Linked DNA regions of Homo sapiens. The protein of the gene in region 6 purifies or fractionates together with the protein of the main gene of each other region. This does not show direct contact. Each region holds a gene or a part of one and is shown on either strand. Other genes may lie near its edges. The genes, in order: MED13L, NFIL3, KSR2, SETX, PPT1, NIPBL and STK38.

Evidence for each region.
Region 1: the proteins of NIPBL (region 6) and MED13L purify together in Homo sapiens (affinity purification with mass spectrometry, with the first as the bait; one large-scale study listed by BioGRID). This does not show direct contact.
Region 2: the proteins of NIPBL (region 6) and NFIL3 purify together in Homo sapiens (affinity purification with mass spectrometry, with the first as the bait; one large-scale study listed by BioGRID). This does not show direct contact.
Region 3: the proteins of NIPBL (region 6) and KSR2 purify together in Homo sapiens (co-immunoprecipitation; one large-scale study listed by IntAct). This does not show direct contact.
Region 4: the proteins of NIPBL (region 6) and SETX purify together in Homo sapiens (affinity purification with mass spectrometry, with the first as the bait; one large-scale study listed by BioGRID). This does not show direct contact.
Region 5: the proteins of NIPBL (region 6) and PPT1 fractionate together in Homo sapiens (co-fractionation; one large-scale study listed by BioGRID). This does not show direct contact.
Region 7: the proteins of NIPBL (region 6) and STK38 purify together in Homo sapiens (affinity purification with mass spectrometry, with the first as the bait; one large-scale study listed by BioGRID). This does not show direct contact.

What each region holds. Positions count from the first base shown.
Region 1 is NC_000012.12:115,959,694-115,963,193, reverse strand, and holds part of MED13L (mediator of RNA polymerase II transcription subunit 13-like), read left to right. Parts: intron 1-1,795; coding exon 1,796-1,928; 3' UTR 1,929-3,500. UniProt on the Homo sapiens protein: Component of the Mediator complex, a coactivator involved in the regulated transcription of nearly all RNA polymerase II-dependent genes.
Region 2 is NC_000009.12:91,413,833-91,417,332, forward strand, and holds part of NFIL3 (nuclear factor interleukin-3-regulated protein), read right to left. Parts: exon of another isoform or gene 1,734-3,500; intron 1-1,733.
Region 3 is NC_000012.12:117,528,491-117,531,990, forward strand, and holds part of KSR2 (kinase suppressor of Ras 2), read right to left. Parts: intron 3,218-3,500; coding exon 3,176-3,217; intron 2,524-3,175; coding exon 2,451-2,523; intron 568-2,450; coding exon of another isoform or gene 507-567; exon of another isoform or gene 56-506; intron 1-55. UniProt on the Homo sapiens protein: Location-regulated scaffold connecting MEK to RAF. Has very low protein kinase activity and can phosphorylate MAP2K1 at several Ser and Thr residues with very low efficiency (in vitro).
Region 4 is NC_000009.12:132,264,487-132,267,986, reverse strand, and holds part of SETX (probable helicase senataxin), read left to right. Parts: intron 1-3,001; coding exon 3,002-3,500. UniProt on the Homo sapiens protein: Probable RNA/DNA helicase involved in diverse aspects of RNA metabolism and genomic integrity.
Region 5 is NC_000001.11:40,076,753-40,080,252, reverse strand, and holds part of PPT1 (palmitoyl-protein thioesterase 1 isoform 1 precursor), read left to right. Parts: intron 1-1,594; coding exon 1,595-1,693; intron 1,694-3,339; coding exon 3,340-3,411; intron 3,412-3,500. UniProt on the Homo sapiens protein: Has thioesterase activity against fatty acid thioesters with 14 -18 carbons, including palmitoyl-CoA, S-palmitoyl-N-acetylcysteamine, and palmitoylated proteins. In contrast to PPT2, PPT1 can hydrolyze palmitoylated proteins and palmitoylcysteine.
Region 6 is NC_000005.10:36,984,769-36,988,268, reverse strand, and holds part of NIPBL (nipped-B-like protein), read right to left. Parts: coding exon 1,968-3,500; intron 1-1,967. UniProt on the Homo sapiens protein: Plays an important role in the loading of the cohesin complex on to DNA. Forms a heterodimeric complex (also known as cohesin loading complex) with MAU2/SCC4 which mediates the loading of the cohesin complex onto chromatin.
Region 7 is NC_000006.12:36,495,480-36,498,979, reverse strand, and holds part of STK38 (serine/threonine-protein kinase 38), read left to right. Parts: intron 1-493; coding exon 494-617; intron 618-1,104; coding exon 1,105-1,200; intron 1,201-2,174; coding exon 2,175-2,269; intron 2,270-3,065; coding exon 3,066-3,196; 3' UTR 3,197-3,500. UniProt on the Homo sapiens protein: Serine/threonine-protein kinase that acts as a negative regulator of MAP3K1/2 signaling. Converts MAP3K2 from its phosphorylated form to its non-phosphorylated form and inhibits autophosphorylation of MAP3K2.

The DNA.
Region 1 (3,500 bases), on a different chromosome or scaffold from region 6:
ATTTATAGTTGCCTTTGCTTCCTGTTCAGAGCAGGCACTTCATGGTGATGAAGAGAGGTCAGATCTTGGGGGTGGATAGTTAGAAGACAGTGTCTGGAACTCTTAAAGCACCTCACATTGAAAACACTTTTTATGCTTCCTGAGATAGATTATGTATTTTTGTTTGTTTATTCGAGATGGAGTCTCGCTCTGTCACCCAGGCTGGAGTGCAGAGGCGTGATCTCAGCTCACTGCAAACTCCGCCTCCTGGGTTCATGCCATTCTCCTGCCTCAGCCTCCCAAGTAGCTGGGACTACAGGCACCCGCCAGAATGCCCGGCTAATTTTTTGTATTTTTAGTAGAGACGGGATTTCACCGTGTTAGCCAGGATGATCTCGATCTGACCTCATGATCTGCCTGCCTCAGCCTCCCAGAGTGCTGAGATTACAGGCATGAGCCACCGATTATGTGTTTTTTTAAAAATGGACTAGAACATAAATGACATAGTTGAGAAGTGCATTCCAGAAGTGTGTATTAATCAAGCCACAGGCATTCTTCATCTACCTTGAGAAAATATACAGGCCTTTTCTAATGTTTTCTAACTCTTAAATGGTTAGGAAATGATAGGAAACTATATATTATAGATTAATGTATAATTATAGTTATGGATAAAAATAAAGAACCTGATCAACATAAATTTGGCTTCCAGGCCCCCTAGAGCAGGGGTCCCCAACCCCCGTCCATGCCTTGTTAGGAACCAGGCCCCACAGCATGCGGTAAGTAGCAAGTGAGCGAGCATTACAGCCTGTGCTCCGCCTCCTGTCAGGCAATGACATTAGATTCTCATAGGGGCACAAACCCTATTGTGAACCGCACATGCAAGGGATCTAGGTTGTGTACTCTTTATGAGACTCCTAATGATTTAAGGTGGAACAGTTTCATCCTGAAACCATCCCCCACCACGTGGAAAAATTGTCTTCCACGAAACTGGTCCCTGGTGCCAAAAAAGGTTGGAGACTGCTGCCCTAGAGGAACACTGTCCAATAGAAATACAATGTGAACCTCAAATCTAATTAAAATTTTTCTGTTAGCCACATTAAAATAGTAAAAAGAAACTGGTTAATTTTAGTAATATATTTTATTTAACTCAATATACTCAAAATGTTATTTCAACATGTAACAATATAAAAATATTCATGAAATATTTTACATACTTTTCTTTTTTTCGTTTTCTTTTTCTTTTTTTTTTGGAGACGGAGTCCTGCTCTGTCACCCAGGCTGGAGTGCAGTGGCATGATCTCACTGCAACCTCCGCCCACAGGTTCAAGCAATTCTCCTGCCTCAGCCTCCCAAGTAGCTGGGATTACAGGCATGCACCACCACGCCTGACTAATTTTTGTATTTTTAATAGAGATGGGGTTTCACCATGTTGGCCACCTGGTCTTGAACTCCTGACCTCAGGTGATCCACCCCCACCTCGGCCTCCCAAAGTTGCTGGGATTCCAGGCGTGAGCCACTGCACCTGGCCCCTAAGTGTTTGGGCTCCAGTGCCTACTTTACCTGCAGTCCACGCAAGTTCCTACTGGCCTCACTGGCGGAGCTCAATGGCCATGTGTGGCTGCTGGCTACTGTACTGGATAGTCCATATCTAGAAGGAAGGAGGAACATGAGACAAAGGATGAGGGAAAGAGCCTGGGGCAAGTTAAGGAATGCCTTTGAGACCTCCTTCCTGCTAAGATCTGGAATGTATTAGAATCTGAGAACCAGCCTTCCCTCTTGAGGCTCACGCCCCTGCTCTGTGTGTTCTCTTTGGCAGGTTTGTTTTGGAGCAGTACAACGCTCTGTCCTGGCTCACGTGCAATCCGGCCACCCAGGACCGTACTTCCTGCCTTCCCGTCCACTTTGTGGTGCTCACTCAGTTGTACAATGCCATCATGAATATACTTTAATTGGAAAAGCACTTGTTCTCTCTGGCTCAGTTCCTTCTCCCTGCAACCTCAGTCCAAGGAACCTGCTACACTCTGCAAATAACCCACATCCTTTTCTTCAGACCACTCTCCACAGTCCTGCACTGTGATTCCTTCTCAGCAGGCACATGTCAATTCTGCAGTGTTCATTACCAGAGTGACTCCTTGACACTTCTCTCATGGACCTGGAAACTTCCATAAGTGGTGACTTTCAGCCAGTGCGGTGGTGTGTGTAGCCCCAACCACTGGTCCCCAGGAAGTGGTGGTGGTTGATGGCTTTTCAGCGGGAAACAGAAGAGACAGTGTCCTTTTGCACAAGAGTCTGTGTTTTCAGCCTCTGTATACAATTGAGGGCAGTCTAGCCCTTTGGATGAAATCCTCTTAGTTACTGGTGTATGGCCTGTGGGTTACCTGAACTCCATAATCTGGGACTTTTTAAAAATAAGAACCAGCTCAAGTACATGGTTTCATACTGGGGTTTCTGTCTCCCTAGTGTTCCCATCCAGATTAGCATGAGTGCTTTGGTTGACTTCAAACCTGTGTGTCAATGCAGAAGGTCTGGAGACAGCTTCATTTTGTTTATTTATTTTAATTTGTTTTGTCATATGGTTTTTGTGACTTTATTTTTTTAATTCACAAGGACCAGGTACAGTAGCTGAAACCCAATTCAGATCCACCATAGGATTCTTTGACTACATACCTCTGTCCTAGAAGCCGGAAAAGGAGTAAAAACACATTGGGGAGATCATGCCTAAAAGTAATATATTCAAAACCACCCAGCAGTAGGTTTTGTTAACAACAAACTGGATTTTAAAAGTTCTGCCATGTTAAGTGGCCAGCATTTCATGAAGGATAACATTTTTATACAGAAGGCAGTCAAGCTCAACTCAGAGCCATGGAGGCAAGTACCTTAATTAGTTTTATATAGTCACAACGGAAATATATTTTCTAGTGAATTCTTATTGGAAGCCAGGTCTCTCCTCTCATTAGATCAAAAGGGACTTATGTACATACAACAATTGAAAGTGTTTGCTCATGAAATCAGTTATAAATATGGTGAATTTTTTCTGGACCATAGGAATATTATTTCAAAGAAATATTACAACTTAACCATTAAATTAGTACTTGAAGTTGAGCCTTTGTGGTGGGACTTTTTAAAAAAATGCCTTTTTAAAGCATTAATGGCTAATTGAAGTATTTTATGACTCCTCATTCCTGGCCCAGAGGGTTGTCTTTGAAACCCTGTTTCTAACCCTTGTGTTGTGTGTTTCTGTCTGAGGACAGTGGGTGTGTACTGGCCTCCCGGGAGCCACTGTGACCAGGCCTTTGAGCTCTTGTCATCTGTGGAGAGAATCATGCAAATTTTAAAAGTTCTTCCAAGAGACTTCCATGTCCTGGTTATTAACAAAAAAGGAAAAATGTAATAATTGATATGATTTTGTAAAAGTATTTTTCTTGAAATAATCTAAAGTTTAAAACATTATATTAAAAAAAAAGTTGTGTGGTGGGAATGTGAAAGCAGAGAAATAACTTGTAAATGGATAATTTTGTTCT
Region 2 (3,500 bases), on a different chromosome or scaffold from region 6:
TGCAGACTATTATTCTGGTTATTTTCTCCACCTGAGAATCTTTCTCTTCCATGTGTTATCTTATTTGTTCCTTCTTAAAAAAAAAAATCAGATTCCTTTATTTTGCCTCACTTACTAGATTTACAGTAATGCTTTTGAAATGCCCCGCCATTCTGTCTGCCTTAGTTACTCTTCCTAAACTTCTAGGACCTTTTCAAGGTTGGGGCCCAATTGGGAAGGAGCCTTCACAATAGGTCCTATTTCTATTTAACTGAAATAGCCCCATTTGTCTTAAAATTTCCTTAACTCATGTCTTCTAGGTGTCTAAGTACTATATGACTACTTTATCATCTCTACAACTTTGTTGGTACATTAACCTACAGAAAACTTCATTTGCTTTTTTGTTTTTGAGACAGAGTTTCACTCTTGTTGCCCAGGCTGGAGTGCAATGGTACGATCTTGGCTCACCGCAACCTCTGCCTACAGGGTCCAAGCAATTCTCCTGCCTCAGCCTCCCAAGTAGCTGGGATTACAGGCATGTGCCACTAAGCCCAGCTACTTTTGTATTTTTAGTAGAGATGGGGTTTCTCCATGTTAGTAGAGATGGGGTTTAGTAGAGATGGGGAAACTCCATGGGGTTTCTCCATGGGGAGTTCAGGCTGGTCTTGAACTCCCGACCTCAGGTGATCTGCCTACCTTGGCCTCCCAAAGTGCTGGGATTACAGGCGTGAGCCACCTCGCCAGGCCACCTCATTTGTTTTTAATCATCTTCTTCCTATTTGAATTTCATGGCATGTCACTATAAATCTGTGATTCTGCTCTCATCTGTATGTATTACATTCATGGTCTCTACAACTCAATGGCAAATCACCACACTATCTTAGGATATTTTCTGTAATATTATCTATCAAATAATCTTGCAGTGTTGAAAAGAGTTTATCAGCATTATGGGATGATACGGAGACAGGCACAATCATATACACTGTGTGTGTTTCCACGTGTTTGTCTTTTGTGCCCAACTACACTGCGAATTACTTCAGGGCGGAAATTAAAATATACTTGTCTTCTAGCAAAAACCTGAAGATATTAGGTGCTCAACATTTCATTGACAGTCACCCATATACCTTATATAAGAGAGTTTTGTAAACAGAAAACTTTTTTGATGCTTTCTTTTTAATGTTATGTGAATTGTAAAGAAGATATTTTACTTATTAACAGAGAGATTCTCTTATTCATTAATTTGTTTATTCAACACATATGGAGCACCTACTGTGTACTGGGCACAAGGGGAGACTAGGGGCACATAAAGAGGGAGAGAAAAACCAAACTCCCGAGACCAGGCGCTCAGTCGTGGGTGGGTGGGAGACAAACAGGTGAGCAGAGGGGAACCAGGTGTGAGTGCAGAGTTGCACAAACATGGGCCTGGGGTGCAGGCTTTCTTCTTGTCATGGAGATAATAACAAAAACAATCATAATTGGTGCCATTTATTGAACACTTACCACAGAATGGGCACTGGGAGCCTGACCTGCTTTCTTTCATTCACTTTTGGTGACAATTTTCAGATAAGAAAACTAAGGCTCAGAGAAGTCAAGTGACTTGCCCAGTGTCACATAGCTAAATGGCAGAGCGTACATTCAGGCCCAGTTCCTTTACTCTCTCCTACACTTTCACAGGTGGTTCTGCATCTTTGCAATGCAGTCTCATTTACACACAGTTCTCTTTTGTGTCACTTTCATTTCTGAGTAATACATACCCTTTTACTAAGTTACTTTGGGCGCAGTAAGGCACTATGCTAACTTAACTACTTCTTCTTTTTTTTTTTTTTTCTTTTTGAGAAGGAGTTTTGCTCTTGTTGCCCAGGCTGGAGTGCAATGGCGCGATCTTGGCTCACCACAACTTCCACCTCCTGGGTTCAAGCGATTCTCCTGCCTCAGCCTCCCAAGTAGCTGGGATTACAGGCATGCGCCACCATGCCCAACTAATTTTGTATTTTTAGTAGAGACGGGGTTTCTCCATGTTGGTCAGGCTGGTCTTGAACTCCCGATCTCAGGTGATCCGCCTGCCACAGCCTCCCAAAGTGCTGGGATTACAGGCGTGAGCCGTCACGCCTGGCTCCTTAACTTCTCTTAGATGCTGTCTTAACTTCTTTAGCCAGCAAAGATACTATCTAGAACTTTTCTCCATCCTCCTTAGATGTTTCAGATCTGGCACTATTTATGAATTGAGAAAACATTTTATTAATTTTCATATCTTTACTAAAATTTTAACCTCCTGGCTATTCTAATTATGTTAAATAGAGAAAAAGAAATATGATAGCTGTGGACATTGTCACCTATGATCTTCTTCTTTTTTTTTTTTTTTTAACAAATCCAAGAGTGTAATCTGTTTTCAACATGAGGCGGGGGACAGTGTCTCTCTGACCCTCTCATTTTGCAGATTAATCAGCTAGAAGACAGGCTGACCTTCCCAAGACCACACAGCAGTTGGGCACAGATGGGCTCTGAGCTCTCCTTATGCCCCTCAACAATGAACTTAAAGCAAATGCAAAAGTAGTTTACGATGCCTTCAAAAAGCCTCAGGATTTATGCTAACCTAACAAATTTATTTCAAGCCTCAATATTTTCCCTTATGATTAATTTAACAATTACTTCATCTATGCATCATCTTTTCAAATCAACATCTAATGTTGTGGTATATTAGTCATTGCTTAAGTTTCTTTTTTGGTGAATAATTGACACTACATGCCAATTCTATGATGTTAGTGTATTCAGCACGATTAACTTCATTACACACATTAGATGATATGACTCTCCTTGAAAACACAAATAAAAAAGAGAAATTTAAGAGCAGGTATTATTACCTACCAGTTGACATATTTTTCCATACATACTCCGAAGGTGCCATCACTAATTAATGCTTTTGTATAGTCCATCACACTACTTCTCTAAGCAAGAATTATATAGCAAGAATTATATTTCATAAGCCCAGATTTTTAAAGTTTAAGTCAGATTACCCTATTGTTTTTAATTAAGTACAAGATTTGATTTAGAAAATTCTATAAAAGAATATAACCTCATAACAATAATTCTAGACCAAATTTATCCTTGAGGAGTTATCTCATTAGTTATGTTTATGATAGACCTTTATCTTCCCTGGTCTCTCCCAGAACTAATGTTTAACAATCCAAGCTCCACAAAAGAAAAGAATAAACATGCTTTGTTTCAATCATCTGAAATCTTACTAATAGTCTAAACATTAAAATCTACTCTGAGAACATTTTGTTATTAATTATCTATAAAGGGTAAGTTTTATTGCAAATTGCAATATATATTTTGTTTTTAAAATTCTGTCAATAGAAGATGAAATACTATTTGATATGCCCAATGATTTGGAAACATTATAGAATTATCTTATTTTCCCTCTACTCTCTGAATGTATTGTTTTCTCCCTGTTATATAATACAGATAACAGTAAAGGAAAAAAAAATGTCTTCAAGGTAAACCTAAGTTATGTTAAACTG
Region 3 (3,500 bases), on a different chromosome or scaffold from region 6:
ATTGCAGGAAGTGGCTGACTCCACAGAGTCAATCCACTTGCTGGAGGGGGTCCTGGTGAAAGAGTCTGAAAGACCACAAGAACTAAAAGAAGGAGAAAGAAAGGTCAACCACAAAGTGGCATTCGCCATGGTATTAACCAATTATTCATAGCACAGCCTGGGAAAGTGGAATGAACCTGCACGATGACAGCTGACATGCTGAGAACTTGATGCCCTGGGGGAGACTTGGCTGGGACAATGCAGCTGGAGTCCCTCCTCATGCCCAAAACCAAAACAGGCCACCCTCCTCTCTGCATCAAGGCGTGATTCCAGCAGCCAGGGCTATTCAAGTATTTCCTTCTGCAAAGAGTTGTCATCACTCCGCGCACATTTAAGCAGATCGCAAGCAGCTATTGACTCTGTTTTTCGCTGGTACCTCTGGACTGTCAGTTAATAACCTGGAGTTCATCTTGCACAAATTGTAGAATTGGTTTATGTGAAGCAGAGAAATGATCTCGAGCTAGATGTCAGCACCATATCCCCCGGCAAGTTGCTGCTCCTTTGATTTCAGAGATGTACCATGTAAGTCTTTAACAAAGTCCATAAGACCAGTCAGAAAAGATGAAGCAGTTAGGGGACCCAGAAGAAAAACTAAGTAGGCACAAAGGTGAGTTAGGAAACTGGTCAAATCCTAGCAAGCCCCAGGCTTCCATCGCAACCAAAGAAGTTAAGGAGGTGACTTTGTGACATCACTTTTTTCTTCTTTAGACAGAGTCTCCCTCTGTTGCCCAGGCTGGGGTGCAGTGGCACAATCCCACCTCACTGAACCTCCACCTCCTGGGTTCAAGCAATTCTCCTGCCTCAGCCTCCCAAGTAGCTGCGATTACAGTTGTGTGCCACCACGCCTGACTAATGTTTGTATTTTTAATATAGACGGGGTTTCACCAGGTTGGCTAGGCTGGTCTCCAACTCCTGACCTCAGGTGATCCTCCTACCTTGCCCTCCCAAAGTGCTGGGATTACAGGCATGAGCCACTGCGCCTGGCCAAGGTGACTTCACTTCTGCTGCACAAGCAATAAACCACCTGAAAAGAGGGTCTGTTTCCTAAGGATGCTATGCACAAAGATGTTCATTGCAGCATTATTTACAACAATGAAATATGGGAAGCAATGTAAAATCCAGCAATAGGAAAATGGTTAAGAAAATTATTCTACATCAATATGTCATTTTACACCCATTAAAAACAATATCAGACAGGTGCAGTGGCTCATGCCTGTAATCCCAGCACTTTGGGAGGCTGAGGTGGAATGATCACTTGCACCTAGGAGTTTGAGACCCACCTAGGCAACATGGTGAATCCCTGTCTCTACAAAAATAAAAAATTAAAAAAAAAATACAAAAATTAGTTGGGTGTGGTGGCACACACCTGTAATCCCAGCTACTCGGGAGGCTGAGCTGGGAGGATCATTTGAGCCCAGGAGGCTGAGGCTGCAGTGAACCGTGATTGCACCACTGCATTGCAGCCTGGGTGACAGAGTGAGACTCTGTCTCAAAACAAACAAACAAAAAACAAAAACCAACAATGTCTATGGAGAGGCTAAAATAATATTCATAAAATGTGATGTTTGGCATAAAGATAACAAAGCAGGATGGTAGCTGCTTGCATATATTGTGGGTCATAACTATGTAAAATATAAATGGAAAGAACACACATAGAAGTTTTAACAGTGGTGAGATCATGAGTGATTATTTTGCCTTTCCCTTTTTAAAGAATAGCCCACATTTTCCAAAATTAGCTTATATTATTTTTATAATAATATAAACCAGAGGTTAGCAAATTTCTTTCTGCAAAGGGTCATAGAGTAAATATTTTTGGCTTTGCAAGCCATACAGATTATGTTACAACTACTCGATTCTGCTGCTGCATGGAGAAAGCAACCATGCACAATACATTGTAAACAAATAGGCATGGCTGTGTTCCAATAAAACTTTAAATAAAAACAAGCAGGAGGTTGGATCTGTCCCATGGGCTATAGTTTGCTGATTCCATAAACCTCAATGAGACTTTTGAAAGTTATTCCATGTTCAGTGACATGGAATAATTGCCCTTTCATTAAGTACTAGCTATCACCCGGGGAAAGTTTTCTTCCTAATCACAGGGAGGTTATGGGTCCTTAGGAAACGGTCCAGCCCCTGGAAATTGCATTTGACAGGCAGGGTCAGAGACACAAGGCATAGCTGCTCGTGAGGAACAGCATTGCCTCTCTCTCCATCTCTCTGTCTGAGCTGTCACGCCCTTTCTCTTTGCCTAAGTTATTCCCTATGTCTCTCTGACCCCCTTGTACATCTCCCTCTGCCCCCAACTCCATCAGTTCCAGGAAGAGAAGGAAAGAAGATAGGGAACCTGAGTGGATTGTAGGGCCAGGGCTGGGAAGCTTGGGAAAGGGGGAAGATGTCTCTGTCTCACTTACATTGGATTCGAGGTCACCGGATGCAGGATGACCTGGGGCGCCCGGGTCGGCGTCTCCGGCACCGGCACCACATCTGAAAACCAGAGATTGAACACTCAGAAAAAAAATGTGAAGTCCACAACCCCCGCAAAGGCCTGATTCCTGGGCGACATGGCAGCCAATTTTTCACCAGATCTTGGATCTCTGCCCTTGGCCAATCTCCTTTCTCCTTTCCTGGACCACCTGGACTCTACCTGCTCAGCTGGACCAGGGTTCTGGATGACATCCTCAACAAAATTCCTCATTGTTGAATAGGGGGCTGCCAGAACCCTCAAATATCTAGCCTGAAGCATTCATTGGTCATCTCTGAATCTTTCTTTCTCCTGGGTTCCCTTTGGGATGATAAAGCCCCTTGGTTTCACATCCTCTCAGTACCCAGCTCAGGACCCTATGACCATCTCTTTCCTGCCACATGGCTCTAGACCCCTCCTCACCCTCGCCCAGTGTTCTACAGCACTCCACCCTCTCAGGCCTTTCCACGGTGCCTTGGGACCTCCTTGGGTCCCACTGTGCCCACTCTTTCTTCTCCACTTCCATGTTCAGCCATTATCCTGGAGTGTGGTGACTCCACTACCCTCTTTGATCTTAGGCACCCCCACAACATCTGCCTCCATTCATCCCAGAAACTCCTGCAATGCAGCGGGGCTTGTTCAGAAGGGGCTGCTTCCAGCTCACATGAAACTCACCTGGGAAGATGAACTGCTGCTTGTATTTGTAGTAGTGGGATGCTTGCAAAAGAAAGAAAACATCAAAGTGAGTGTCCCCAGGGAGACATCGCTTCAGGGACCAGATTGAGCTCTTACAGCCACCACATGGTCATTCTCTGCCCACCTTCAAGAGTTTCCATACTTCTGCAGACATCCCTGCAGACAAGGGACTGCAAACATGTGTAAAGAAACCAGAACTCTAAACATCCATGCCGACCCTCCCATCTGACATCTCACACTCCCTAAAATCAGACTGCTCCAACTCAAACAGACATTCTGACTACAATACCATTTTTGTGAAATG
Region 4 (3,500 bases), on a different chromosome or scaffold from region 6:
CTAGAGATACATCTTTTAGTGATGCCTTGATTAAAGGAGGCTTTGTGGGCACTACTGTTTTTCATCCTCCCTTAAGTTGGCACCTCATGGTGTTGATGTGTCTTGGCAGTGCACTCTGGATGGATGAGGCGCATCATGATTGTGAAGGGTGGGGTGCAGGAGGCAGGGCAGCCCAAGGAGGACATGGGAAGTAGGGTTTGCAAGGTTATTCTGTAACCCTTTTTCACATTCCGTTTAGACAGTGTTTGGGAGCCCCTGGGTCACACTTGCACAACTGTGCAGACCACTGACCTCCAGCTAATGGCACCGACATTGTCTTCACTCTAGGAAGGCAGTGCTACAAAAAGAGACAGACGAGAATCTGAAACTTCCCGACATGTCAGCTGGGCTTCCTAACTTTTTTTGTCCTTGGGCTTTTTCTTTGTTGTTTTGGGGATTCATTTGCTTTTGTTTCTAAGTTTTTAGCCTAGTTCCCCTTATGGGAATGGGATCAATCATTAAAGCGTTTGATTTCCTCTGAGAAACCAAGGCTAATAGTGCCTGCTCAGAACTGTTTCTGTGATCTTAGGAATGGATTAAACACCAAGTTTAGGTGTAGTGAACTTAGCAAAAATTGCAAGGCCATCTGCTTCACATATGTGTTTGAGCCACAGGCTAAGGATCTCTAGAGATCTGAGTGAGAAAGAGAACTGAGCCCCCAGAGCCTGGCGCTCCCTCCACAGACCTGTCTTCAGTATGCCAGCCACCGGGCCAAGCATTTTATTCTGGTCACATGACTTTCTCCAAACCTTGAAAAACTACTGTGAAGTCAGCTTATTACCATAGTTCATCAAATTCAAGAAACCATTCATTATAATATACACCACTATTTTATGTACCATTATTAGACTATGACACAGTGCCTTATTTTCACTTAGAACTTTCATATTTATTGAAAGGACTCTTAAGACTTTAGACAGATTTTTACCATATTCTTATCCATACATAGAAAATACAAGTAAAATAATAGGTTAAGATATTCCTAAAAATATTTCACTTTCAGAATTTAGCACGAATGAATCACTTCCCAATCCATAGTCATCAGTGTTGTCATTCATCCCAAGTGCAATAATAAGGTTGGCAATTTAGCATTTGCTAAGAGTTACACCATTGTCTCCAGGATTTCTTAGAACCCTTTATCTCCAGTGTATAAGGTTTTTTTGGGGGTTTTTTTTTGAGACAGAGCCTCACCTTGTTGCCCAGGCTGGAGTGCAGTGGCACAATCTCAGCTCACTGCAACGTCCGCCTCCTGGGTTCAGGCGATTCTCATGCCTTAGCATCTCAAGTACCTGGGATTATAGCTGTGCACCACTACACTTGGCTAATTTTTGTATTTTTAGTAGAGACGGGGTTTCACCATGTTGCCCAGGCTCGTCTTGAACCTCTGACCTCAGGTGATCCGCCCGCCTCAGCCTCCCAAAGTGTTAGGATTACAGGCATGAGCCACTGCACCTGGCCCAGTGCATAAGTTTTAATGCTGGTGTTATCTTGTCTTATCAGAAAATGTCTGTAGAAGGTTTTCAGGCATTATTTTTAAATGGTTTATTGACTAAAAGTCTAAGGGTTATAATTGCCTCATCATGTAATTTCCAAGGATAGGTACATGGCCAAGAGGCTCCCCAAGGTCAGAAATGCTAAAATGTGAAAGCAACGTGCACTTTAGAATCCATTAAATAAAATATTACTCCTATTTTACAGATGAGGAAACAGGCTCAGAGAGGTCAAGTGACTTGACCAAGGTCACACAGCAAGTAAATACTGTGCAGCCTCACTGCTTCCCTAACATACCTTTATGAACAGTACAGGAGCCCCCATGAGAGGGTAGCTATCCTTTTTCTTCTTTTCTTTCTTCTTTCTAAAGAGACCCGAATTCTAGTGGTTGTAAAGCAGCAGCCTCCTCTGAAGAAACTCGGGAAGAGAGGAGAGGTGCATGTGTTTGGCAACTTTCCCGATGGGATTTAATATCTTAAGCTCCTGTAGGAAACAGGCAGAAAGTGAGATGATATCTTGAGATCTCGGTGGATGAAGATGTTTTAGCCATTCGGGGTTTGGGAGGCCTTTAGAAATCCAGTGAAAGCCTTGGGCCTTTTTCTAGAATAGTCACATGCACTCAGAAGTTTGCTTTCTGAAACCAGACCTTCCTGTTTCAGAACGTTAGCCCTGCCAAGAGGTGTAGGCAGTACTCTAGATCACCAATGTCCAAAGGACCTTTCTGTGATAACGGAAATGTTTTGTGTCTGCACTGCTCAGTACAATAGCCATTAGTCGTGTGTGACCGCTGTGTACTTGAAATGTGGCTGATGCAATTTAGGAACAGAATTTTTTATTTTAATTTATTGAAATATAAATAGCAACATGATGCTCCTAGTGACTAGTGCAGACCTGCGTTGCAGTTGAATGCACTGATAAAAATGGCTGAAGTTCGGCCAGGCACGGTGGCTCCTGCCTGTAATCCCAGCACTTTGGGAGCTGAGGCGGGCGGATCATGAGGTCAGGAGATCGAGACCATCTTGGCTAACATGATGAAACCCCGTCTCTACTAAAAATACAAAAAATTAGCCGGGCGTGGTGGCGGGTGCCTGTAGTCCCAGCTACTCGGGAGGTTGAGGCAGGAGAATGGCGTGAACCCGGGAGGTGGAGGTTGCAGTGAGCCAAGATCGCGCCACTGCACTCCAGCCTGGCAACAGAGTGAGTCTCTGTCTCAAAAAAAAAAAAAAAAAAAACAAAAGTTGAAGTTCTCCATTATAGGTTGTGACCAGGTCTTATTTTTAGGAATGGGACTTTATCATTTTTTATTTGAATTTATTTTTTCCTTTCATCCTTGTCTGACGAGTAATGAATCTTGAGAATATGTTCATACAATAATATGTATTATTTGTTCAGAAATGAAAGCTGGAACTCTATGCTTCCCAAGCAGTGTCTCTTTGGGGTGTAATTATTTCTCCCTTCTCATTGTTTCAAGGAAAACCAGCATTGGAATCAGCTGATTCAGGATGCTCAGAAGCGTGGTGCCATTATTAAGACCTGTGACAAAAACTATAGACATGATGCAGTGAAGATTCTGAAACTCAAGCCTGTGCTGCAGAGAAGTCTCACTCACCCTCCTACCATAGCCCCAGAGGGGTCCAGACCCCAGGGTGGTTTGCCCAGCAGCAAGCTAGACAGTGGATTTGCCAAGACATCTGTTGCTGCTTCTCTATACCACACACCCTCTGACTCCAAGGAAATTACTCTTACTGTTACTTCAAAGGACCCTGAAAGACCTCCTGTTCATGACCAACTTCAGGACCCACGACTGCTGAAGAGGATGGGCATTGAGGTCAAAGGAGGAATATTCCTTTGGGATCCACAACCCTCGAGCCCCCAGCATCCTGGAGCAACACCTCCTACGGGCGAGCCGGGCTTCCCTGTCGTTCACCAGGACCTGAGCCATATACAGCAGCCCGCTGCTGTAGTGGCTG
Region 5 (3,500 bases), on a different chromosome or scaffold from region 6:
CTTTGAGATTCAGTTCCCTTTAGGGAGGTTGAAATTCATTTGCCTTTCTTCCCTTAAGTTCTTTCCCTCTCCTAGTGTTGAAACACACAGGATAAGCTCGGCAGGTTGCTGACTGGGCGAGGTGGAAATTCACAGCTGCTGTCTTAATGAGGGAAGCTTTCCTGATGGATCAGTCTGGGGGTGGATTTTTCTCTAGAGATTTACCTAAAAGAGAGATACAGTAGGCACTGAGTATGTCCCAGACACAAACATGGTTTGGTAGGTTCTGGTAAACTAGATGGCTCAGTTTATATTTGACTCATCTGGAGAGTCTTTTGGTTTTTTGTTTTGAAACAGTTTGAAGGGAAAAACAAACCAAACAAAAAACAACACAGAATAGTATATAGCAGAACGACCCAGAATTTGCAGTTTCTTATTTTGTCTTGGCTTTCTCTGACTAGAAGCCTCTCACCTATGTGATGGACACCTATGGAGTGTGGTGTAAACTCATAGTTGTACCTGTATGCCATGCTCAGTGGCATGTCAGTCAGATAGGATGGTAAGAAAAGCCTATAGAAGGCCGGGCGTGGTGGCTCACGCCTGTAATCCCAGCACTTTGGGAGGCCGAGGTGGGCAGATCACTTGAGGTCAGGAGTTCGAGACCAGCCTGGCCAGCATAGTGAAACCCTGTCTCTACTAAAAATACAAAATTAGCTGGATGTGGTGGCGATCACCTGTAATCCCAGCTACTCTGGAGGCTGAGGCAGGAGAATCGCTTGAACCTGGGAGGCAGAGGTTACAGTGAGCTGAGATGGTGCCACTGCACTCTGGCCTCGGTGACAGAGCGAGACTCCATCTCAAAAAAAAAAAAAAAAAAAAAAGGAAAAGAAAAGGCTGTGTAAGCAATCCCGTGACTGGGTATATACCCAAAGGAAAACAAATTGTCCTGCCAAAAAGACACTTGCACTCGTGTTTATTGCAGCACTGTTCACCATAGCAAAGACATGAAATCAACCTAGGTGCCCATCAGCGGTAGACTGGATAGAGAAAATGTGGTACATATACACCATGGAATATTACACAGTCATAAAAAAGAATGAAATCCTGTTCTTTGCAGCAACATGGATGCAGCTGGAGGCCGTTATCCTAAGCAAATGAACACAGAAACAGAAGACCAAATATCACATGTTCTCACTTATAAGTGGGAGCTAAACATTGGGTACACGTGAATATAAAGATGGGAACAATAGACACTGGAGACTCCAAAAGCTGGGAGGGAGAGGCTAGGGCTGAAAAACTTCCTGTTGGGCACTGTGTTCACTATCTGGGTGAAAGGATCAACAGAACCCCAAACCTCAGCATCACACAATATACCCTTATAACAAAACTACACATGTACCCCCCTGAATCTAAAATAAAATATTTTGTTTTTTAGAAAAAAAGAAAAAAAAAAGCTGTACAGGTATATCCTGGTCAGGAAGCTGGAAAACAGCCCATACCCATGGGGAAGAAACACAGTGGCACAGGGTCAGGGAGACCAGAAAACAGGAAGGCTTTACTCCCTCTGCTGGTGTCTGATGGTAATGACCTTAGGTGTTGCTGGCCTTTCTTTCAGGGTATCAATGAGTCCTACAAGAAAAACCTGATGGCCCTGAAGAAGTTTGTGATGGTGAAATTCCTCAATGATTCCATTGTGGACCCTGTAGATTCGGAGGTGAGACACTACTTAGGCCACATGCCAGGAGAGTAAATGGCATTAAAATAGGGCTGCTGGCCGGGCACGGTGGCTCATGCCTGTAATCCCAGCACTCTGGGAGGCCAAGGCGGGTGGATCACCTGAGGTCAGGAGTTCAAGACCAGCCTGGCCAACTTGGTGAAACCCCATCGCTACTCAAAATACAAAAAGAAATTAGCCGGGTATGGTGACAGCCATCTGTAATCCCAGCTGCTTGGGAAGCTGAGGCAGGAGAATTACTTGAACCCAGGAGGCAGAGCTTGCAGTGAGCCAAGATCGTGCCACTGCACCCCAGCCTGGGTGACAGAGCGAGACTCTGTCTCAAAAAGAACATAAAATGAAATTGAAATGAAATGAAAAAATACAGCTGCCTGCTGGGGAAAAAACCTTCAGTCCCTTCCACCAACTTTTGTATAAAACAGTTCTTCACCTGAGGTCCATAAATGGGACACTGAAGATTGTAATCAATCCCCCAACCCCAAAATTCTATGCAAAATTATGTAATTACATTCTCTGGGGAAGGATCTATAATTTTAATCCATTTTCCAGAGATCAGAGACCCAAAAAATGTTCAGAATCACTAGCCCAAAATATATAAATTCCTAAGCTTGGCCTCCAAGGTCTGCCTTGATCTGGCTTCACCCCATTTTCCAGCCTAATCTGCCTTGTCTGCACGCTTCATACACTCTTGATCAAGCCATATTGTACTACTTGTGCTTTTTCTCTCGTATGCCTTGGTTCATATATTTCTGTCTCTAGAATGCCCTTCCTTGGCTTCTCCACCTGACAATTTCTATTCGTCTGTCAAGGCAAGGATGCCATCCCCATTCCAAGCAGAATGTGATCGCTTTTTTAGAATCATCAGCCTCTGTTAAAACACTCATCACGTTATGTCACACCACCAGGGATTGGCCGATTGTGGCCCACAGGCCCAGTCCATCCTGCTACCCGTTTTGGTGCTACCCACGAGTAACACCAAACACTAACATAAAAGAATGTTTTTAACATTTTTTAATGGTTGGGGGAAAGAATTGGACATATAAAGATTATGTAAAATTTATTTAGACATATCAAGTATTTGGACATATAAAGATTATGTAAAATTTAAATTTCAGTGTCCTTATTGGAACAGTTTTAGTTACTTTTTACATACTGTCTGTGGCTGCATTTGTTACAGTGGCAGCAATGAGTAGTTACAACCATATGGCCCTTAAAGCCTAAAATATTTTGTATCTGGCCTTTACAAAAACGTTTGCTGACCTCTGTACTCAACAGTGAATTGTTTCCGTGCCTTGCAAGACTGGGAGCTTTTTGGAAACAGATTATGTATTCATCCTTGAATGTCTAGAGCTCAGCACAGGAATTTTTCACATTTATTGCTTAATAATTTTAGGAAGCAGAAATTCTGGGGAAGTGGAAAGCGGCCTCTCAGAAAGATTAACTCATCCCTCGGGCTCCACCCTTAAGAAGAGATGACTCAGACGCACCCTATCCATTTTTCCTTCTTCCTACAGCTTTATGATGTTCACTTTGTTGGCAGTTTTAGCTTCTAACCAGTCTCAAATTATTTTGGCAGTATGTGCTGTGTGTCATATCTGAGCTTCTTTCCTTTGCTTCTTCTGCAGTGGTTTGGATTTTACAGAAGTGGCCAAGCCAAGGAAACCATTCCCTTACAGGAGACCTCCCTGTACACACAGGTAACTGGCAGGGAGTCTATCTTGGGAGGTTGGTGTTTTTTCAGCTCCCAGTTCCTGAAGCTGCTATGTTCTTTGGTGCTGGAGCCCTT
Region 6 (3,500 bases):
GTATATACATCTGCATTAAAAGTATACTATCAGAAACGCATTTTGGTGCTAAAAACATATTCATAGGCAATATTATTGCATGTGAAAAACCCAGGTGAAATAATATACCAATTACTAACTAAAAGCTATATTCACTTCTGGATGTTCTTTAAGGAGTTTTAAAAGACTCTTTGTTAGAACAGAGTTTAGAAAGCAAGGCTAGGGTAAGCTGAGAGGGGAGGGAGAGAAAGATGGTCCAGATCAAAGGAACAAGAGGGTACCACTTTCCATCTTTCACCTGACTCTTCTAAAATTGTATAGCCATACTCTTTAGTTTATAAATATAAGCTACTCCCAAACTTTCACTAAAAAATTTTAAAGAAAATTTTTACCTAAAAGAAAACAATTGTGGTGTTAACCCCCACATTCTACAACCTCTTTTATATTAACAAGTAACTCTGAAAAGATGCATTCAAGTTAAATAAAAAAGCCTACTTATTAATTAAGGCTGATGTCTTAACTGACTTTTGGTAAGTCTAATTGCCATAATTTAAAATTTAAAAGCTTCACTCAAAGAACACAAATATTAGCGACTCAGAAGGCAATCTTTTTTCATTATTGTAAGACAAAAGGAAATAAATTAACAGTGAAAAAATGAATGTTGACGAAGACCAAGCAAGAATAACAACAGATTAGCCACAAGTCATTCTTTGAATAAAGAGTTCTTTATAATATGTTTTCAAAGAGCTTTCTTGGTAGACAAGCTACAACAGCATGTTATGAAAAACAATAACCACACACTTTTTGTATCTCCTAATACACTGCAGTGCTATACAACTTTGTGATGATGCAAATGTTCTGTTTTGTCCAATATGGTAGCCAACAGCCACATGTGACTACTAATGAAATGAACTTCCAATTTTAGTTAACTTAAATTTAAATAGCCAAAAAAGGCAATGGTTACCCTCTTGGCCAATGCAATTCCAGATTTCATATACTTGGTTATATATAAGTATAAATCTAAATTCTTAATAATTCTCTTTCACAGAAGGAAAACTTAAATAAACTCTCAGTTCTATTGCCTTCACTACACCTCAGTATATTTAGACTGTATGGACACGGTGGCTCACGCCTGTAATCCCAGCACTTTGGGAGGCTGAGAGGAGAGGATCACTTGAGGCCAGGAGTTCGAAACCAGCCTGGTCAACAAAGCAAGACCCCATCTCTATTTAAAAATAAAAAAAGTTATTTTAAATACTTGTGTACAAAGGGATACAGAAGTATATCTTCTGCACAAATGGCCATTATCTTTTGGCACTTAAGACATTCTTCTCCCTTTGGAAATAATTTTACTCAAGTAACCAGAGAATTCAGAAACCATGCAAAAATAACACCAGTCCCCCGCCTCCCACAAACTTACAATTTAACCAAATTTAAAAAGTAAGTACCATTCCCTATTACCTTTGCATAAACAAGGACAAAAAGATATGTTTTAAAAATATAAAACATATTTAACTAACCATCTCCCCAACAAAATGAAAAATAACCTTTTATATAACTTTCTAAACTATACAAATTATTCATCAATAATTGGCTCAGACACAGGTCTGTAAGAATGTAGTATTGTAAGACATTTTTAAATAGAGAGTTTTTAAAGACAGCTATTTTAATACAACATTCACTTAAGCATATTTCAGAAATATAAGAAATAACTAAACAGCAAAATAACTTATCTCTGTGTAACCAAATAGCAGTAACATTCATAACTACCTTGAGTAGTGGGTGGGAAGAAAAAAACTGTGGGGAAAAAAAAATTCACTGGAAACTTTTTATCTATACTCCTGAAAAAAATTTCCTGTTGTTTGACATAAATGTTATATTTTCATGTAGTAGCTTTCTAATTTTTGTAAATTTCCTTTTTAAAACTTAGTAATCTTAACACTTAAAATCGATTATATTATAAATGACATCAGTAGAAGTATTCTTACCTTTATTTGACTTTGATGGTTTATTCTTGATAGGTTTAAGGGAACTTCTTGATTTGTCCTCTCTATCTTTAATAAGTTTCTGAACATCATCCAAAGACAGTTTTTGTAGCACAACTACAGGCTTAGCTCCTTTATTTAGATCTTCAACTAATCCTATTTTTTCTACTTTGTCTTTCGGCTCTCCTTTCATTTCCATTTTCTTTGTCTCCTGAGTAACATTGCCATCTTTATCCCTCTTGATTTTCGGAATGACAAAATTTTTCAACGCACCAGACCTGCCCCCCAACAAATAACTTGGAAATTCTGCCTTATTGTCAGGGTGTGCTTTATTAGTGTCTACTTTACTCTTGTTACCCTCTGTCCTTTTGTCATCTTTACTAGTTGGTGATTTAAAACCAAGTTTATCAGATCTTGATTTATTAGAATCTCCTTGTTTAACACGAGGACTGTCAGGTCTTGATTTTTGTTCCCCAGAAGATGGTCTTTCCCTTGAGTCCCCTGATTCATGCCTGTGTTTTCGTTCTAGTTTATCAGTTTTTGAACTATCAGATTTAATGCCATGTTCATTTCTACTAGAGGATCTCAATGTTTCTGGTCTTCGAACCCTAGACTGATCCCCTCGATGTCGCTCTGATTCACCCCTGTCATCTGATTTTTGTTTATTATCATGGTCACGTCTTAGTGACTCAGAAACAGATCGCCCATCAGGTCTCTGCTTTAAGGCTTCAGCTCGTTCTGATTTTAACCGAGGTGAGTCAGATTTAGTATCTTGTTTATGTTTAGACACTTCAGGTTTTTTCTCTGTAGATGGCTTTCCAGAATCCCTCCTATTGTCATGCCTGTGTTTTGGTGTTTCAGGTCGCCCTTCATTTTTTTGCTTTGGAGTTTCAGGGCGGCTCTCACCTTTTTGCTTTGGAGTTTCAGGCCTTCCATCACCCTTCTGTTTTGGGGTTTCAGGATGCCCATCACTCTTTTGTTTTGGAGTCTCAGGCCGGCTTTCACCCTTTTGCTTTGGGGTTTCAGGCCTTGATTTTGTTGTTTCTGATCTGCCATTATTTTGTTTGTTGTCATTTGGTTTTGTGTCAGACAGTCTATTTTCATTTTGTTTAGGCTCAACTATGGTGCTCTCGTTTTGTTTGCATTCAGTTGTTCTGCTCTCATTCTGTTTAAGTTCTTCTGTTTGGGTCTCAACTTTAGTTTCTAACTTATTTTCACTTGATTTTGTCTCCACCAATCGGTTTTCATTTGGTTTAGATTCTGCTAATCTACTTTCACTTTGTTTCATTTCACTCTTTGAAAGCTCAGGATCAGACTTTTTTTTAGGTGTCTCAGGATGGTTTTCTGGTGTAGATTTAAGACTTCCAACAATATCTTCCTGAAGAACAGAAACAGGTGCATCATTACATTGTTTGATTTCTTCAGGCTTTTTTATGGAGTCTGAATCCTGAGTTATAGAAGCCTGAGAGTCCACTCTTCCTGCCTGATGAAGATCAATGCTAACCATTAATGCTGGCCTTGACCCATTTCCCGTAG
Region 7 (3,500 bases), on a different chromosome or scaffold from region 6:
ATTTTCTGGGATAAGTGGAAATCCTGTCTGTGTCATGGAGGGATGGCCATACAGAGTAATCCAGTAGTCATTAAAGACATACAGAATCAGGCCGGGCACAGTGGCTTATGCCTGTAATCCCAGCACTTTGGGAGGTCGAGGTGGTAGTATCTCTTAAACCCAGGAGTTCAAAATAAGCCTGATCAACATAGCAAGACTCTGTCTTTACAAAAGAAAAATAAAAAATCAGCTGGGTGTGGTGGTGCTCTTCTGTAGTCCCACCTACTGGGAAGGCTGAGGCAGGAAGATCACTTGAGCCCAGGAATTCAAGGCTGCAGTGAACCATGATTGTGCCACTGCACCCCAGCCTAGGTAACAGAGTGAGACCCTGTCTCAAAAAAAAAAAAAAAAGAAAAAAGAAAAAAAAAGACATAGAATTTTATTAAGGAGAGTAATCTCGGTCAGATTCAAAGTTCTGGAGTGTAAAAGCTCCGAAGTTCCTTTTTTATTACAGGCTACCCACCTTTCTGTTCTGAGACCCCTCAAGAGACATATAAGAAGGTGATGAACTGGAAAGAAACTTTGACTTTTCCTCCAGAAGTTCCCATCTCTGAGAAAGCCAAGGATCTAATTTTGAGGTATTAGAGAACATCCCTCCACCTTCTTTCTCAGCTTTTTAATATGAATGATTCCATTTTTTTAAAAACTTTTGTTATCTCCTGAATCTGCTTTCTGTTTCCTCCTATTCCTCTCTTTAAACAAATAAAAAGGCTGTGCATGGTGGCTTACGCCTATAATTCCAGCACTTTGGGAGGCTGAGGCAGGGGGATCACTTGAGCCCAGGAGTTTGAGACCAGCCTGGACAACACAGCAAAACCCCACCTCTAAAAAGAAAAAATTGGCTGGGTGTGGTGGAACCTGTGGTCCCAGCCACTTGGGAGGCTGAGATGGGAGGATCCCTTGAGCCCAGGAAGTTGAGGCTGCAGTGAGCCATGATTGTGCTACTGCACTCCAGCCTGGGTGACAGAGTGAGATGCTGTCTCAAAAAAAAAAAAAAAAAAAGAAAGTTTTTCTTTTTCTGAGGAGACTGCTTGAGATGTGCTGAAAGGCCTCTGTCTTTTCCAGGTTCTGCTGTGAATGGGAACATAGAATTGGAGCTCCTGGAGTTGAGGAAATAAAAAGTAACTCTTTTTTTGAAGGCGTTGACTGGGAACATATCAGGTATATCCATATAAACACTTTCAGAATTATTTCAGAAAGTCTCTAGTTTACTTAATAATAATTTGGAAGGACCATCATTGGCAAGCCAAGTAAGGGAAGAGAGCTTCTTAGAGATTTAGGGTCTTTTCCTGATTTTCATTCATGGTGAAGATTGGGCATTAGATTTTTTGTCAGCCGTGTGTCATGGAATATATTGAATCTAGCAGTTATTTACAAAGTGAAGTGAACTTTGTTTTTTGAGGTGGAGGGAGCATCTAGGAAGCGTATTACCCTTTACCTAGAACTCAGCAACCTCTTAGGTCCCGCCAGCGGGACTGTTCCTGCCCACAGGGTGGAAGGTATCACTGGAACATAGAGAAGGGAGAAAGGAGTGGAGGAAAGATTGGAGGGGTGGAAGTGGAGAGGGAAAGGGAGAGTGAAAATTGTTATGGTGGGGGTAGTAGACTACGGCCAATAGCCGTGAGAGCCTAGACCACCTGCTGTAGTCCAGACCTTCTCATTCAGCATTCATTGGTTATTAAATAGAAGGTGAAGTTTTCATTTATTTTATAATTGTGTACTGATTTGCTGCTTGTGATTTTTTACCTTTGCCACTTTTCTAGCCATCCTACTTGGCACCTCCAGTGGAAGAAGGGCAGAGCCCTACACAAGGGGACATTTAGAGGTTCAGTTTCCCTTTTTAGTAGACAGGCCAGGCCATGGGGGGAGTTGCACTAACTTCACGTTTTAGTTATTCTTATCTTTCTTTCTAGCTATGAATGATTGAGTTATTTTTTTAAAATCATAATTTACTTTGGGTACAGTCAGTTGGCTTGGTTGGTCAGTGTTTATAAGTTTTTCAGAGAAAATAAATGCTGCCTGCCAGTGAAGAGTCTTCTCATGTCAGACCAGGGGTCTTTTTTGGAGAAAGACTTGATTGGTATGATCCATTTGATTACTAACTTAGTAATTTTTGGCATGTGTATTCTTGGCAGAGAGAGACCTGCTGCAATATCTATTGAAATCAAAAGCATTGATGATACCTCAAACTTCGATGAGTTTCCAGAATCTGATATTCTTAAGCCAACAGGTAACACCACCAGCATTGTCTCCTGCTGCCTTATAAGCACATTATTTACCCCCAATTTTGGGATGATGTTTACAAATCAGGGTAGTGAACATGGAGAGGAATTTCATTTCTTCAGGTTCTTTGTAAGTACTTTTCTAATTCTAATGCTGGGTAGTGGTGAAACCTTGGTGAATGGAAAATGAGTATCAGCTCCCATGTTTAGACTGCTCAACTGGGTGAGTAAGTCACAAAAATCTGTTCTTTTGTTATTTACTAAGTGTTAGGTAATCTGAAATGACAGGAATGGGAAAATAAAACATTAAAAAATTTGTGAAGAAATATGAGATTTAAAGAACATGAGCAAGAAAATGTGGAAAATTCATAGAGTGAGGCCAGGCGCGGTGGCTCATGCCTGAAACCCCAGCACTTTGGGAGGCCGAGGTGGGCAGATCACAAGGTCAAGAGATCGAGACCATCCTGGCCAACATGGTGAAACTCCATCTCTACTAAAAATACAAAAATCAGCTGGGTATGGTGGCACACGCCTGTAGTCCCAGCTACTGGGGAGGCTGAGGCAGAAGGATTGTTTGAACCCGGGAGGCAAGGTTGCAGTGAGCTGAGATGACGCCACTGCACTCCAGCCTGGCGACAGAGCAAGACTCTGTCTCAAAAAAAAAAAAAAAAAAAATTCATAGAGTGAAAAATAAGCTTTCCCAAATAGAAACTGGTGTGTTCTTCATAGTCCTGTCTTCAGCACCGTGAGCAGTCCATTGGAGGCAAGGCAGTGAATCAACTCTCACATCTATTTCTTTCCCAGTGGCCACAAGTAATCATCCTGAGACTGACTACAAGAACAAAGACTGGGTCTTCATCAATTACACGTACAAGCGCTTTGAGGGCCTGACTGCAAGGGGGGCAATACCTTCCTACATGAAAGCAGCAAAATAGTACTCTTGCCACGGAATCCTATGTGGAGCAGAGTTCTTTGTATAACATCATGCTTTTCCTCTCACACTCTTGAAGAGCTTCCAAGAAGTTGATGGAACCCACCAATATGTCATAGTAAAGTCTCCTGAAATGTGGTAGTAAGAGGATTTTCTTCCATAATGCATCTGAAAAACTGTAAACAAAGACAACCATTTCTACTACGTCGGCCATAAACAGCTATCCTGCTTTGGAAGAGAAGCATCATGAGCCAATTTGATAGGTGTTTTAAAAATAACTTGAGTTTTCCTAAGTTCATCAGAATGAA